Regions from separate parts of the Homo sapiens genome. Here region 1 is linked to region 2. The links come from fine-mapping of genetic effects on gene expression. A gene starts in region 2. The other region holds a variant in brackets. All regions are shown on one strand. Distances are from middle to middle.

What was found. PIP is the estimated chance that this variant, and not a neighbour inherited with it, causes the effect.
Region 1: its variant is the best candidate, but not a certain one, in a credible set for the expression of SEC31A in whole blood (INTERVAL, PIP 0.81).

Annotation. Positions count from the first base shown.
Region 1 is chr4:82,852,738-82,861,074 of GRCh38, reverse strand. It overlaps SEC31A (SEC31 homolog A, COPII component), which reads left to right. Exons shown (of 27, transcript NM_001077207.4): 15 at 3,311-3,386; 16 at 3,945-4,123; 17 at 6,046-6,172; 18 at 7,360-7,505. Among named protein-coding and RNA genes, the nearest start is that of SEC31A, 34 kb to the left of the region's middle. The variant A/T (reference allele first, on the strand shown) is at 3,529.
Region 2 is chr4:82,887,594-82,895,930 of GRCh38, reverse strand. SEC31A (SEC31 homolog A, COPII component) reads left to right here and starts at 4,778. Exons shown (of 27, transcript NM_001077207.4): 1 at 4,778-4,843. It overlaps THAP9-AS1 (THAP9 antisense RNA 1), which reads left to right. Exons shown (of 4, transcript NR_034077.1): 3 at 157-239; 4 at 1,084-2,479. It overlaps SNORD143 (small nucleolar RNA, C/D box 143), which reads left to right and starts at 3; the gene lies at 3-78.

The DNA of each region.
Region 1 (8,337 bases), 35 kb after region 2:
TTTTTAACCACTAATGAACAAATCTGTAATTTACTTTTCTTGCTTTCTAATTTTATTTCATCTTGGAAAATTAATCAACAAGTTCTTCTCATCTCATCTTTGGCTTTTTCATTGTTCTTTGTGATATCTTGACTATGGAATGTTATGTATAATTTTTTACTAAGTTATAAAAATAAGTAAATTTAGTCTATTACAAGATGATTGCAAAAATCATTCTCCTTAGAAGTGGATCTCCTAGAGTTTAATTAACAAGGGAATAAAGGATATGGATAAAATCTTTACTAAAACTTTGAACTAGGCCAGGCATGATGTTTGCTTATGCCTGTAATCCCAGCACTTTGGGAGGCCAAGGTGGGAGGATCACTTGAGGCTATGAGTTCAAGACTAGCCTGGACAACATAGTGAGACCCTATCTCTAAAAAAAAAAATAAAAAATTAGCCAGGCGTGGTGGCACATGCCTGTAGTCCTAGCTATTTGGGAGGCTGAGGTAGGATCACTTAAGCCCAAGAGTTCGTGGTTGGAGTGAGCTATGATCACACCATTGCATTCCAGCCTGGGTGACAGAGCAAGACCCTGTCTGATTTAAAAAAGAAAAGAACTAATTTTGAGAATATTTAGACAGAATTGTAAGATACATAGAGAAATGTACTTTCATTTATGTACAACTAGACTATGTATTATCAAATAGAAGATCATTTGGGAATGCACTCATGAATAATAGGTAAGAAATATATGCATTTAATGAAATAGTAGTCATCAATGTGTACTTTTGGTTCTTTGAAAAAATGTGTTTAAGGAGGTAAAATCTTCCCCTTTGTCTCAATGAGCTATTTGTTTCATAGTAGCTTACACATTGAAGGCACTCAATACCTAATAAATTGTGCATTTTTTGACCTTATATCTCGTTCAGAAGTCCATAAATAAGGATAAATTGTTTCTAGAAAGCAAATTTGAGAAATAATGAGTTAAAAAAAAGAAAAGTGGCCAGGCGCAGTGGCTCATGCCTGTAATCCCAGCACTTTGGGAGGCCGAGGCGGGCAGATCACGAGGTCAGGAGATTAAGACCATCCTGGCTAACACGGTGAAACACCACCTCTACTGAAAATACAAAAATTTAGCCAGGCGTTGTGGTGGGGCGCCTGTAGTCCCAGCTACTTGGGAGGCTGAGGCAGGAGAATGGCATGAACCCAGGAGGTGGAGCTTGCAGTGAGCTGAGAATGCGCCACTGCACTCCAGCCTGGGCGACAGAGCGAGACCCTGTCTCAAAAAAAAAAAAAAAAAATATTTTTATGCAAGTTTGTTAATGAATGTAATTAGATCAGTGTCTCTGATTTATTCCTTAATGTGAATAACTTAAATTCTTAATTTCTTTTAGTTTTTAAATTCCAAATGCTTCTCTTTAGTTGGGGAAAGGGAATTAGGGTTATAGATATTCTCCTGTAATAGTCAACATTAATAATTAAGTGTATTTGCAGATGGTGCAGTGCTGTACTCTGCATTAAAATTACCCAGTTCTAAAATGCCACTGAACTTGAATACTAGATATTTACATTCAGATGTGTAGATAACATAGCACAGAAGACAGATATTTCATCTCATGTAAGAAAGCTTTGTTTTTCTTTAAAAATTTATCTCTAATCTCTGATATATTTTTGTCTTATTTTGAATTTTTATGCATGGGAGAGAAAGCATTTAAAATTATTTGCCAGCAAAATGCCCCCATTATATTTCTTCTAAAGAAAGCATTGAGTTTATTTTTAATCAGTCTTGCAGGTAGTCTCAGAAATTTATAACAGAACTGTGTATATTTTTACCAGACTAACCCACTGTTCCAGGTATGACTAATTTGAGTAAACACAAAATGTATACTTGAATTTAAGTGTATTAATAAATAATGTACTTATATTACTTTTATGTTATGGGTACCATGTGATTTTTTTTTCATTTTTTTTTATGATTCAGTTAAAAACAAAAACACTTTATAATCAAATCCAGTGGACAGGAATTCTTAGATGTGTAAAAGTAGGTTTGTTTTAAAATTTAAAAATAGTATAATTTAAAAATATATTTTCCGGCCTGGCGTGGTGGCTCACGCCTGTAATCCCAGCACTTTGGGAGGCCAAGGAGGGCGGATCATGAGGTCAGGAGATCGAGACCATCCTGGCTAACACAGTGAAACCCCGTCTCTACTAAAAATACAAAAATTAGCCAGGCATGGTGGTGGGCACCTGTAGTCCCAGCTACTCGGGAGGCTGAGGCAGGAAAATGGCGTGAACCCAGGAGGCAGAGTTTGCAGTGAGCCGAGAGTGCGCCACTGCACTCCAGCCTGGGTGACAGAGTGAGACTCTGTCTCAAAAAATAAAATTAAATAAATAAATAAATAAATAATATATTTTCCATATTTTGAGCCACTCATAGTTACCTAAGAAAACAAAGATTCTTCAGCCTCATTACTGAGATACCAGTAATGAATATGTACATGTTAGTTTATTTAATAGTGTTCTTTTTTTTTTTTTTTTTTTTTTTTTTTTGAGACAGAGTCTCGCTCTGTCGCCAGGCTGGAGTGCAGTGGCGCAATCTCAACTCACTGCAACCTCCGCCTCCTGGGTTCAAGTGATTCTCCTGCCTCAGCCTCCCGAGTAGGTGGGGCTACAGGTGCACACCACTGCCGCCAGCTAATTTTTGTATTTTTAGTAGAGACGGGGTTTCACCATGTTGGCCAGGATGGTCTCGATCTCCCGACCTCGTGATCTGCCCGCCTCGGCCTCCCAAAGTGCTGTGATTACAGGCATGAGTCACAGCACCCGGCCAATTTTTTGTATTTTAGTAGAGACGGGGTTTCACCATGTTGGCCAGAATGGTCTTGATCTCCTGACCTTGTGATCCGCCCACCTCAGCCTCCCAAAGTGCTGGGATTACAGGCACGCACCACCATGCCCGGCTAGTTTTGTATTTTTAGTAGATATGGGGTTTCACCATGTTGGGCATGGCTGGTCCCGAGCTTCTGACCTCGAGTGATCTGCCTGCCTTGGCCTCCTAAAGTGCTGAGATTACAGACGTGAGCCACTGTGCCCAGCCTGTTTAACCAGTATTCTTCATGACCTTGGATTTTATTTATGATTATATAATGGGAGGTAATATTTAGGGAAGGCATAGATCTTAGTTGTAAATTTGGATCTGAGAACTTTTCTGGAATAACTTGGTATGTCATCTACTCTGTAGATGAAGAATCATGTGTAAATTTTTTTTGTCAGTAAATCATTCCACAGTTTTATTCTGGCTAAATTGTTGCTTTTTTCATCTCTTTAGCACATTAAAGAGGAAAAAGAAGAATCTGAATTTCTACCCTCATCTGGAGGAACATTTAATATCTCTGTCAGTGGGGGTAAGTACTTGTTGGTTTTGATTTCTAATTTTTTTTAACCATTGGAAAACAAATAGTTCCTGCATTTAAGTTAAAATGCTTCAAGTCAGGTGCTGTGGTGCATGCTTATAGTCCCAGCTACTTGGGAAGTTGAGGCAGGAGG[A/T]TCACTTGGGCCCAGGAGTTTGAGGCTATCCTGGACAACATAGTGAAACGCTGTCTCAAAAAAAAAAGTTTTATCACAGGTGGTAGAGTGTGAGAAAGAACTCACTTTTCCTTTAGTACAGTATATGTGATCAGTGCCTTGGGAAGGCTGGTGTGTTCAGACACCTAGGTGATCTTTGATAATCCAGTTAAAGCATCTGGAAAATGTATTATTTTGTATTTATCTCAGCATATTTCTGTAGACCTCTTCCATAAATACCAATAGCTTGTGTTAGAAATTAATCCACTAGTAATCAGAAATTAGTGTTGTGGTCTCCATTCATGTATATATATAAAAATTGATAGATGTAGTACTTTGTTGTTGGTTTTGGTAACAAAAACTCTATTTAACTTGGATGTATTATTTTCTTGTTGCAGACATTGATGGTTTAATTACTCAGGCTTTGCTGACGGGCAATTTTGAGAGTGCTGTTGACCTTTGTTTACATGATAACCGCATGGCCGATGCCATTATATTGGCCATAGCAGGTGGACAAGAACTCTTGGCTCGAACCCAGAAAAAATACTTCGCAAAATCCCAAAGCAAAATTACCAGGGTATGTTATTTTAAAAATAAGCAATAACGTATTTATCTTTCTAATTATAAAAACAATACACTGTTATTATAGATAACTGAAATGCAGAAACCAGTAAAGAATTTTAAAAGCTCATTCATAATTCCTTGACCTGGAAATAGTTGTTGGCATTTTGGCATGATTATTCTAGTTTTGTTGTTTTTGTATATATTAATAATTTTAAAGACGGGGTCTTGCTCTGTCACCCCAGCTAGAGTCCGGTGGCGTGATCTTGACTCACTGCAACCTCCACCTTCTGGGTTCAAGCGATTCTCCTACCTCAGCCTCCCAAGTAGCTGGGATTACAGGCGTCCGCCACCATGCTTAGATAATTTTTGTATTTTTAGTAGAGATGGGGTTTCACCATGTTGGTCAGGCTGGTCTCGAACTCCTGACCTCAGGTCATCCGCCCACCTCGGTCTCCCAAAGTGCCAGGATTACAGGCATAAGCCACCGTGCCTGGCCTTATTAAATTTTTTAATTGCGGCTGGGCGCAGTGGCTCACGCCTGTGATCTCAGCACTTTGGGAGGCAGAGGTGGGGGGGTCACGAGGTCAGGAGTTCAAGACCAGCCTGGCAACATGGTGAAACCCCATCTCTACTAAAAATACAAAAAATTAACCGGATGTGGTGGTGGGCACCTGTAATCCCAGCTACTAGGGAGGCTGAAGCAGGAGAATCGCTTGAACCTTGGAGGCAGAGGATGCGGTGAGCCGAGATCACGCCATTGCACTCCAGCCCGGGCAACAGTGCAAGACTCTGTCTCAAAAAAAAACCCAAAATTTTAATTGCTCTATAATATTTCATGGTAAGAAGATGTAATGTTTCCCTTATTTTGTTATGTTTAGGTAGTTTCCAGTATTTTCCAAATAGAAATAAACACGCTTGTTTATATAGTGATAAACACCTTTGTTGTGCCTAAAGACTTGTACAAATTTCTGATTATTTAAATTGAACTGTAGTCATAGAAGAGGAATTTAACTTTTATTTTAAGTTCAGAGGTACATGTGCAGGTTTGTTATATCTAACAAACTTAAGAGTAAACTCGTGTCATAGGGGTTTGTTGTACAGATTATTTCATCACTCAGGTATTAAGCCTTGGACCCATTAATCATTTTTTCTGATTCTCTCTCTCCTCCCACCCTCCAATAGGCCCCAGTGTGTGTTGTTCCCCTCCATGTGTTCACATGTTCTCATCATTTAGCTCCTATTTGTAAGTGAGAACATGCGGTATTTGGTTTTCTGTTCCTGTGTTATTTTGCTAAGGATAATGGCTTCCAGCTCCATCCATGTCCCTGCAAAGGACACGATCTCATTCTTTTTTGTGGTTACTTGGTGTTATTTCTACATCATAAAAAAAGTAATTTTTATTGAAATTAGTTTTCATAAAAGTTGTACCAGTATTGAGTCCCATTAGCCTCATCTCATCTCAGTCTCTCCTCGGTTATCTTTTAGCCACAGTGGCTGCCTTGTAGTTCCTCCCTCACTCATTGCATGTTCCTTTCTCACTGGAACTTTGCATCTGTCGTTCCCTTGGCCTGGAAGGCTTTTTCCTTCTTGATGAAGTTAATTCCTGCTTGTCCTTCAGATCACGTGTCAAAAGTCTACATGCTTGGGCAGTTTTTCCTGATCCATCTGACCAGGTCACACCTTTCTATTAAAGGTTCTGATAGCACCTTATATTTTTCCTTCTCAGCACTTTATGAAATATGTTGTCAGTTGTTTTTGTTGTTGCTGTTGTTTCTTGAGGAACAATAATACCATTATTATGTCATTTGATTCAAAATTATACTTCATTTTGCTGCTGCATTTGGCATGAAATACTTGACACAATTAATTAGTCAGAATTAATTTTTATTGCTATGTTAAAGACTTTTAATTCTTCCTTTGTTTTCGTTTCTCAAGCTCATCACTGCAGTGGTGATGAAGAACTGGAAAGAGATTGTTGAGTCTTGTGATCTTAAAAATTGGAGAGAGGCTTTAGCTGCAGTATTGACTTATGCAAAGCCGGATGAATTTTCAGCCCTTTGTGGTAAGAGATGTGCTTTATATTTAACTGCATTTACATACGTGGCAGGGTATATTGTAAATAAACTTAAATGACAAATTTTATTAGAAACTTTTTAAAATCTACAAATCACAAAAAAGAAAAATTCTCATTTCAGTGCCTTTCTCAGATTTATTAAATACGTCTTCATACCTACTCTTTTTTTTTTTTTTTTAAATCTACTAGTGATTTTGGTTTCAGACAGACAAGAGTTGGAATCTTGCCTCTGCTACTTAGTAGCTGTATGATCTAGGAAGAACTACTTTCTAAGCCTCAGTTTATTCATCTGTGAAATAGACCATAAGTAACTCTCACTTAATAAATATTAGCTATGATAAAATTAATAATAACATTAGAATAGAAATTACCATTATAGGCCATGACTAAACTGGTGGCCAAGGAATAAATATTTGCAAGAAAAGCTTAAGGCTACTAGTATAAAAACAAATAGCCATTTGCTGCCTTGAAATAATTATAAGAATATAAAAATTACAAAATACTAACTGCTTTTTTTTTTTTTTTTGGAGACGGAGTTTTGCTCTTATTGCCCAGGCTGGAGTGCGATGGCACAATCTTGGCTCACTGCAACCTCCACCCCCTGCGTTCAAGTGATTCTCCTGCCTCAACCTCCCAAGTAGCTGGGATTATAGGCATGCACCACCATGCCTGGCTAGTTTTGCATTTTTCGTAGAGACAGGGTTTCACCATGTTGGCCAGGCTGGTCTTGAACTCCTGACCTCTGCTGATCTGCCCGTCTCAGCCTCCCAAACTGCTGGGATTACAGACGTGAGCCACCATGCCCAGCCATAACTGCATTTTTATAAGTAATTTATACTAGACTTAGCTAACATTGATAAATCTATTCCAAATGTGCCTTTAGGGTTTTTTTGTTCAAATGTTGTTCCCATTTATTGTTTTTCTAATTTAATTAATAAAAATTAGTTGTACAGTTAGATAATAGTTTTGTAAAATCATTTATTGTATACAATTTTTCATTCCCATTCATTTAACAAATGCATATTTACTGAGCATTTAGAGTGATTTTGTTTCTCTATGCTATTCATTGGTTATGAAGCTTAATCCATGCCTCTGAAAATATTATTTAGCTGCTCACAGCCTCATATACAGATTGCCTTGGGTATAATCTTATTTTATTTTCCTCTTACTTACAGATCTTTTGGGAACCAGGCTTGAAAATGAAGGAGATAGCCTCCTGCAGACTCAAGCATGTCTCTGCTATATTTGTGCAGGGAATGTAGAGAAATTAGTTGCATGTTGGACTAAAGCTCAAGATGGAAGCCACCCTTTGTCACTTCAGGTAGTATCTTTGAAACAAAAGGCACTTAATTTTTAGTGTTGTCTTTCACCCTACTTATCATCAAGTTATAATCTATAAGTTCATTTTTTCTATACATTCAAGAACTTCTTTTGCTGGATAATTATATGCATTTATTGCTATCTTTGAAGAAGCAAAGTTTGAGATGATAGGATAGGAAAATGGGGTTGCAGCTGTTGTAAAATCATGGTTGTGATTTGTGAGTTTATTGGGGGAAATAGGTGGCAGGAGGATTGAAAACAGCTCTAGGGTTTACCTCTTTTTCTGTGTGCTCCTCTGTCTGCTTCCAGTGGCTCTGCCTGCCATGAGCAAAGAAAGAAGCAATGTGGGTAAAGGAATAGGAGGCATCCCCAATGCCAGTAGAGAATCTTTATGGTTAAAGGAAAATGAAAGTGAGAGGTAAATGGAATCCCATGTAGCAGAGGTCCCCAACCCCCAGGCCATAAACCAGTACCCTTCTGTGGCCTCTTAGGAACCTGGACTCACAGCAAGAGGTGAGCAGTGGGTGAACGAGCATTATTGCCTGAGCTCTGCTTCCTTTCACATCAGTGGTGGCATTAGATTCTCGTGGGAGCACGAACCCTTATGTGGGCTGTGCATGCAACGGATCTAGGTTGTATCCTCCTTATCAGAATCTAATACCTTATGGAACAGGCCAGGTGGAACAGTTTTATCCTGAAACCATCCCCCCTGCTGGCCTGTGGAAAAATTGTCTTCCACGAAACCAGTCCCTGGTGCCAAATAGGTTGGGGACCACTGCCATGTGACACCAATACACAAGCAAGAGAGGAAGTAGAAAATGTGGGGACTATTC
Region 2 (8,337 bases):
AAATGTCCAATGATTAAATTTTTTCCACTGCTGTTCACATCATGATTTGTTGTGATTAATGTATGTGGATGAGGACATAATAGAAAAAGAAAATGATGAGACTTGTATATATTGTGTTTCTGCACAATGAGTTCCTTTGAATGTTTTTCGTTTTAGGAATAAAATTGAAGGGTGTTTTTCTTAGAGAACATCATTTGTCATATTTATTTGATCAAGAAGTTGAAGATTTATATAATAAGGTATGGGACTTACACATTTATTTTGATAAAAGAACACAGAAAAGGTCAGGTATGAGCAGAAAATTGACATTTATTTCAGCCTAATGTGGATACTGTACTCTGAATTAAAAATTTCTTTTCCTTACTCTTCCAGCTTTTAAAGATAAGTATTATTTCAAAATAGTATTTTTTTAATTAATAGATTCAATTCAGGAAAGGCATTGGAGGGGGTGGAGCTTTTAACTTTGACAGTCTCACTCTGTTGCCCAGGCTGGAGTGCAGCGGCGCAATCTCTGCTCACTGCAATCTCTGCCTCCTGGGTTCAAATAGTTATTGTGGCCCAGCTTCCCAAGTGGCTGGGATTAGAGGCGCATGCCACCACACCCAGCTAATTTTTTTTATTAAGTAGAGACCATGTTTTGCCATGTTGGCCAGACTGGTCTCAAACTTCCAGCCACCAACCTCAGCCTCCCAAAGTGCTGGGATTATAGTCATAAGCCACCACACCTGGCTGTTGGTTATCTTTTCTTAGAAATAATGATATAATCTTTTCAGCACCTGATATTCTTAAAGATCCAGGGTTTACAAATGACTGTTAGATATGCCAAGGATGACTAGCCTATAACTTAAGGATCTGTTCAGGAACAGTAGAAAAGAAGGTGATAGGAAACTGGGAATCTTAAATCTAATACTAGTTCTGTCATGAATTAGGCTTGTTATTGTAGTTGTTTCTCAAATTTAAGAAAATATGAGGGGTCTTGAAAAAGTGCATGGAAAATGCATATCATGAAAAAACTATGCATGGATTTCAAAATTTTTGGACCAAAATAAACTCCTACTAACTTGTTATAACATGTCTGAACAGGATCTAGTTTGAAGCACTAAGAAGAATAAGACATCAGTTTGAAAAGAGGCTCTATCAGAACAACACGAATTCTGCTAAAATTGAAGCAAGAACAAACATCAAATATATGTTGACACTTGGGTGGAAGAATGGTGAACTAATTGATGCTTTATGAAAAGTTGATAGGGACAGTGCTCCAAAGAAATCAGTTTACAAATGGATAACTCGTTTTAAGAAGGCATAAGGTAATGTTGAAGAAGAAGCCCACAGTGGCAGATCATCCACATCAGTTTGTGAGAAAAAAGTTAGTTCATGGCGTAATTGAAGAAAACCAACAATTAACAGCAGAAACAACAGCCAACACCATAGACATCTCAGTTGGTTCACCTTACACAATTTTGACTGGAAAAGTTCAGCAAACTTTATACCTGATAGGTACCAAAACCATTGCACCCAGATCAGCTACAGACAAGAATAGAGCTTTCAATGGAAATTTTAAATAAGTGGGATCAGGATCTTGAAGCCTTTCATTGAAAAATTGTAACAGGAGATGAAACATGGCTTTACCAGCGCAATCCTGAAGACAAAACACAAAGCAGTGGTTACCAAGATAAGTAGTTCAGTTAAAGCACAAGAGGACTGGTTGAGAGCAAAGGTCATGGCAACAGCTTTTGAATGCTCAAGGCATTTTGCTTGTTGACTTTCTGTAGGGCCAAAGAATGGTAACGTGCTTATCATGGGAGTGTTTTGAGAAACTTAGCCAAAGCTTCAGCAGAAAAATCCCCGAGAAAGACCAGAGAGTTCTTCACCACAACAATGTTCCTGCTCATCCCTCTCATCAAACAAGGCCATTTTGCAAGAGTTTTGATGGGAAATCACTAGGCATCCACCCTACAGTCCTGGTTTGGCACCTTCTGACTTTTTGTTTCCTAATCTTAAAAAAATTTTTCAGGGCAGTACATTTTTCTCAAGTTAATGTATAAAGAAACTGCATTGATGTAGATAAATTCCCAGAACTCTCAGTTCTTTAGGGATGGACTAAATAGCTGGTATCATCACTTACAAAAGTGTCTTGAATGCTATAGAGCTAATGTTCAAAAATATAGTTTATATTTTTTATCTTTTAACCATTTTTCCACAAACTTTTTGAAGTCTCCTTGAATATGTACCATTTATAAAGGGGAAAAATTCTGTGACTACTCATGTTGACTTAATGCTGACTTAATTTTCTGTTTTGTAAATATATACAAACAAGTTGATACAAATTTTGTTTATAGCCCTTAAACAAATTTGTGAAATAAATGCATTCAGAAACAAACTAAAACAATGAAATGGATGCTACTGTTTTACTGAGGTGTAAGCATAGTACTGGCTGCTATGGAAAAAGTTACATAAACATTCATGTATCTTGTGATGATTGTTTTGTCTACAACTTCACTCTTTGCAGACATCAAGACTGTTGAAATGAGGGGAAGGGATCTGAATTCCCAAAAGAATGTCAAATGGGCATGGAGGCTCATGCCTATAATCCTTGCACTTTGGGTGGCTAAAGCAGAAGGATCCCTGGAGGCCAGGAGTTCCAGACCAGTATGGGCAACAAAATGAGTCCCTGTGTCTACAGAAAATAAAATAATTAACCAGGCATGGTGTTGTGTGCCTGTAGTCCTAGCTACTTGGGAGGCTGAGGTGGGAGGATCACTTGCGCCCTGGATGTTGAAGCTGCAGCGCGCTGTGATCATTGCCACCACACTCCAGCCTGGGCAACACAGCAAAAACCTGTCTCTAAAAAAACCTAGAATATCTTTGTGCTATGCAAATCCTAATTTGAAAAATTTGTCATTAAATTCTCTCCAAACATTCTTCTAGTGAGCAATTCAGTTTTTATTTGATTCAGGATTAGGCTTGGATAGTAGTTAACTAAATTGGATTTAGTTTTGTGAACTAAAGAGTTTTTCTTTTTTTAGATACAGGCAGTCTTTGCACAGTTCCAATATGCATAAATACCAGTGACCACAGTTAAATAAAACCAGTCCAACAATGTGGTTAATAATTCCATTACCACAGTACTGAGAAAACTTGCATAAATTTTGCTGCTAGCTCTTTAGTCCACAAATCATTGTGCCCCCCCCCCCAAAAAAAAGATGTGCATCATGATCAGTCGCCAGTTACATTACTTTGCTTTCAAAGTTTGTTGATTTGTTACTGATCATCTGTTTAGTTCATGCACAGATAGCAGAGCACAAAGTGCATAGTACTGTTGCCTCCTTGACCCCAGAGATTAAACTTGTGACCATTTATAAAAATGGATAATTAAAAGAGGTAATTGGTCAACAAAGGACAGAGCAGCAAAGAAAAGTGATAATGCTGGAAGTGAAATTGGATGTGATTAGATTTGAAAGTGGTGACAGCAAAGCAAAGATAGGTTGAGACCCAGACCTGCATGAAGCTGTAATACAAGCCTATTGAAAAAGTCTGATAAATGTAAAAAGGTAAAGTTGCTTCAACGTCTTTCAGTTTTAATTGCACTAGGAACAGAAAGCTGCTTGCGGTTGAAATGGAGCATTTACTTGTTTGAATTGAAGACTAATCAAAAACAAATCCCAATCAGTTTGACTAGCATTCAGGCCAAAGTGATAACCTTAGTTACTGCGTTGAAAGAAAATGGTAATTAGAAGACTGAAAGAGAATATATTACTACCAGTAAAAGTTGGGTTCATTATTTCAGAAGTTGGCGTGAATTGATGTTAAGCTGTCTTATGAAGCTGCAAGCTTCAGATGGAATGTTACAGAAGATGTAGCTGACTGTGGGAATGTTAACACTGCTGCTGTTCAAGGGGCAGGATCCTTCTGCTTTAGCTACCCAAAGTGCAAGAGTTGGCTTTGAATGCTAGATGTAATGAGAAAAGAACTTGTCTAGAAGTTAGGAGATCTGGGTTGAATCCAATTTCTGGTAATTTAGCAAGTGATTTTCCTTTGGCTTCACCTTGCTGTAAAATAATTCCTCCCTAAACTAAAAGTACACTTAGGCAACGCATCTAATTAGATTTGAGGTTGTGGAGAAACAGTGGCAGAAGGTGAGTGCTACCGGGTCTCAATACCATGGGATAGTAACAAGTATGAAACGGTACTAATTGGAATTAATATAACACCCCATCTATACCTCTTTGTCCACAATAGCCTTTGGGAATGCCCAGATTGTTTCACTTTGTATAAGTTCTCAAAACGCCAGAATGTGCAATCAAGTGGGTAATTTTAAGAACTCAGTCACAAATTACAATAAAGCCCTTGCAGCCCGATTTTCCACCTGGTTTGGCGCGGGCAGTGTCGCCAGGGGCTGCCGACGCCTCACAGGACTAGTGCTACGTGGCGTTCCTGCGGGCCACGGCGGTTATTCGGCCAGACGGGGACACCCTCTGCACTAGTCCTTTACCCACTAGTCCTGGCTACCCCATCCACATTCTGCGCGCCGCCCCTCAGAAAAGGGTTTCTACGATCGCCGGGGCGCGATGACCGCAGAGCGCCACCAACCAGCGGAGCCGTACCCCGCCTCCCAGGCTACCGCCGGTCCCGGAAGTGCCGTGGCGGGCTGTGCGTCGGGTGGGCGGGGAAAGATGTCGCTCCCGGAAGTGTTGGGCGCAGGGCGTGGCTGCGGCTGCGGCTGCCACGTTGGAACGGAACGTGGAGGTGGCCCTGGCCGGGGAGGAGGGGCGGCGGCGAATGCTGGGAGAGTCCGACGAGCGCTGCACTAACGCAGGATCCGGCTGCCGAAGGTCCTCGCCAGGTGCGTCCGCCCGTTGCTTTTTGTCCTCTTCGCCGGTCCTTAAGCTTTGAGGTAGAGCCCAGGCCAAAACTGGGACCGCAGCCTGGGTCTCCGCTGCCCCGCACCAGCCTGAGGCCCGGTCTCTGGTGACGGCGCGCCCCTAGTCTTGGTTTCGGGCCCGGCGGAACAACGCCTGGCATCTGGACTCCAGTGATCGCGCCCGTCCGCATTCGCCGACGTCTCCACTGCTGAGCAAAAGCCACCCGAGGCTGGCGACAGTGTCTTGCCGGGGAGTAGTAGCCGGGCTGGTAACTGGAGTTTGAGATTAGGAGACTTTCAGACCCTTGTGCACAAAGAGGTGCGGTCCCCGAGGGTGAGGAGAGGAAAAAAAATCTCAGGATTACTTTGGCTTTGGTTAGGATTTTTTTTTGTACTTGAACTATTGCCAGATTTAAAGGTTCATAGGTTTGAACTGACGTCTACTGTCATTTAACTAGGATTATTTTAAGGACGGTGGTAGCCAGGCGCAGCCTGTACTTTGAGGGCAGTCTCATTAAGTGTTACATGTTTTTGCTAATAAGTTGTTAAATTACGGGGCTGTTGTAAAATAAACCAAAATATTGCCTGGACTTGTGGGCATTATAAATTTTTTCTTGCGCTTAAGGAATTAATTTTACGTAGGGCTATTTGAAGTTGCAGTGATCTGATAGTCTGTGACAAATCCTTTCTCCTAACTTATTTTTTCTAACTATAGAAAACTGAAATTTGGTTGTCTTTGTGGGCAGTTATAACTGTATTTAATCGATAAGGGTGTGTTCTTGTTACAGCGTCCTGCGTTTTCTGTACCTCCGTTTATTCAAGAGTTGGCAAAAGCTTACTCTCCTTTTTTTTTTTTTTTTTTTTTTTTGAGACGGAGTCTCGCTCTGTCACCCAGGCTGGAGTGCAGTGGCGCGATCTCAGCTCACTGCAACCTCCGTCTCAGCCTCCTGAGTAGCTGGGATTACAGGCGCCCACCACCACACCTGTCTAATTTTTGTATTTTTAGTAGAGACGGGGTTTCACGCTGTTGGTCAGGCTGGTCTGGCACTCCTGACCTCAAGTGATCCGCCCGAGTTGGCCTCCCGAAGTGCTGGGGTTACAGGCATAAGCCACCACGCCCAGCCTACTCTCCTTTTTTAGTGGTTCTTCTGTGCTCCTTGTTTCTCACTATCCCTTAATTAACAGCTCAGGGAGAGGTTTGTAGACTCTTAAGAACTTTTGGATAACTCGTAGTGTTTTTGTAGTTTTGTAGTGATTTTATCTTAAATACGTCCGCGGTTATTTGTGAAATTTGAAATTTGAGGTGGATTTATAATGATATTGCTTAATTTTATATAAGCAAATTCTTTATTGAAACCAATAACATGGGAATAGAAATAAATTTGTAAACTGTGAAGAGCAATGATTCAAAATTTTGGGGGGATTTCACTGTCTTACGGGAATCTAATGAAAGCATTGGAAGAATGCACATATACACACATGTAGGATTTTCTTTTTTTTTCTTTTACTTTTTTTTTTTTTTTGAGACAGGGTCCCTCTTTGTTGCCCAGATTGGAGTGCAGTGGTGCAGTCATAGCTCACTATAACCTTGAACTTTTGGGCTCAAGAGATCCTCCCGCCTCAGCCTCAGAAGTAGCTAGGAATATGCACGTGGCGCACGCCCAACTAATCTTATTTTTTATAGAGATGGGGGTCTCACTGCGTTCCCCAGGCTGGACTCAAGCTCCTGCTTTCAAGTGACATGTAGGATTTTCTATATACATAATATTATGAAGTTTACAAGTTAAAAACTCCTGTAAGGGGATATTACTAGATTGATTTACATTGATTACATTGTTGTTAGGAATGTCATTAGGTTAATTTCAGCTCAAAAAGTTTTATTATACTGAAGATTAGTATGACACCAATTAGTTCAGTAACCAGTGCACAGTTGCTTTCTCCTTTGATTTGGTTTGGGTTGAGTGAAATGAACCTAGAACATTGAAAATACTAAATAAATCCTCTAAACAATTGTTTCTATCCATATTGAGATATTTTGCCTGCAGAAAATGGATTTTTACTGAAAGCAGTGCCAACTAGGGATTGTATACCTGGTTTGGGAATCCAAGTTCCAATTCTATTACCTCTTTAACTTTTTACTTGCTTTCTGAGTTATGGATCAGCTCTGTATATAGCATTGCAAGGTTGGTATTTTTCAAAGAACAGTGCTGGTGGGTTTTAGTATTGCTTCACAAAATTTACACTTTGAAAATGAGCAGAAATAAAAAAGTTTCCACCTAATTGAATGCAATTATTGAGAGAAAGTTGCATGAAAAATAAAGAGTTCTAGTCTAGAATATAAATTTTCCTCAAGAAATTTTTTTTTTTTTTTATTTTTTTCTGAGGCAGAGCCTCGCTCTGTCACCCAGGCTGGAGTACATTGGCGCGATCTCGGCTCACTGCAAACTCCGTCACCTGGGTTCAAGCGATTCTCCTCCCTCAGTCTCCCGAGTAGCGGGGACTACTGGCCGCGCCATCACGCGCAGCTAATTTTTGTATTTTTAGTAGAGACAGGGTTTCACCAGGTTGGCCAGGATGATCTGGATGTCTTGACCTCGTGATCCGCCCGCCTCGGCCTTCCAAAGTGCTGGGATTACAGGTGTGAGCCACTGCGCCTGGCCGTGTCTGTGTGTATATATATATATGTTTTTTGTGTGTTTTTTTTTTTTTTTTTTTTTTTGAGACGGAGTCTCGCTCTGTCTCCCAGGCTTACTGCAACCTCTGCCTCCCGGGTTCAAGCGATTCTTCTGCCTCGGCCTCCTGAGTAGCTGGGATTACAGGTACACACCACCACGCCCGGCTAGTTTTTGTATTTTTTAGTGGAGACGGGGTTTCGCCATGTTGGCCAGGCTGGTCCCGAACTTCCGGCCTCAAGTGATCTGCCCACCTCGGCCTCCCAAAGTGCTGGGATTACAGGCATGAGCCACTGCGCCTGGCTAATAGATGTTTTTTTTGTTGTTGTTTGTTTGTTTGTTTGTTTGTTTTGAGACAGAGTCTTGCTCTGTCACCCAGGCTGGAGTGCAGTCGCATGATCTCAGCTTACTGCAAGCTCTGCCTCCCGGGTTCACGCCATTCTCCTGCCTCAGCCTCCCGAGTAGCTGGGACTACAGGCGCCCGCCACTGCGCCCGGCTAATTTTTTGTATTTTTAGTAGAGACGGGGTTTCACCGTGGTCTCGATCTCCTGACCTCGTGATCCGCCCGCCTCGACCTCCCAAAGTGCTGGGATTACAGGCGTGAGCCACCGCGCCCGGCCTAATAGATGTATTTTTGAAGTTTCGTGGTGGTAGACGTTTTAAGTAGTGATGTTTGTAATAACTGTCATTTATGAGCATTTGTTTATATATGCCAGGCACTGTTCTAACCACTCTGAGTAATACCACTTATTTCTCACAACAACCCTGTAGTATAGATACTGTTCTCCTTATTTTAATGAGAG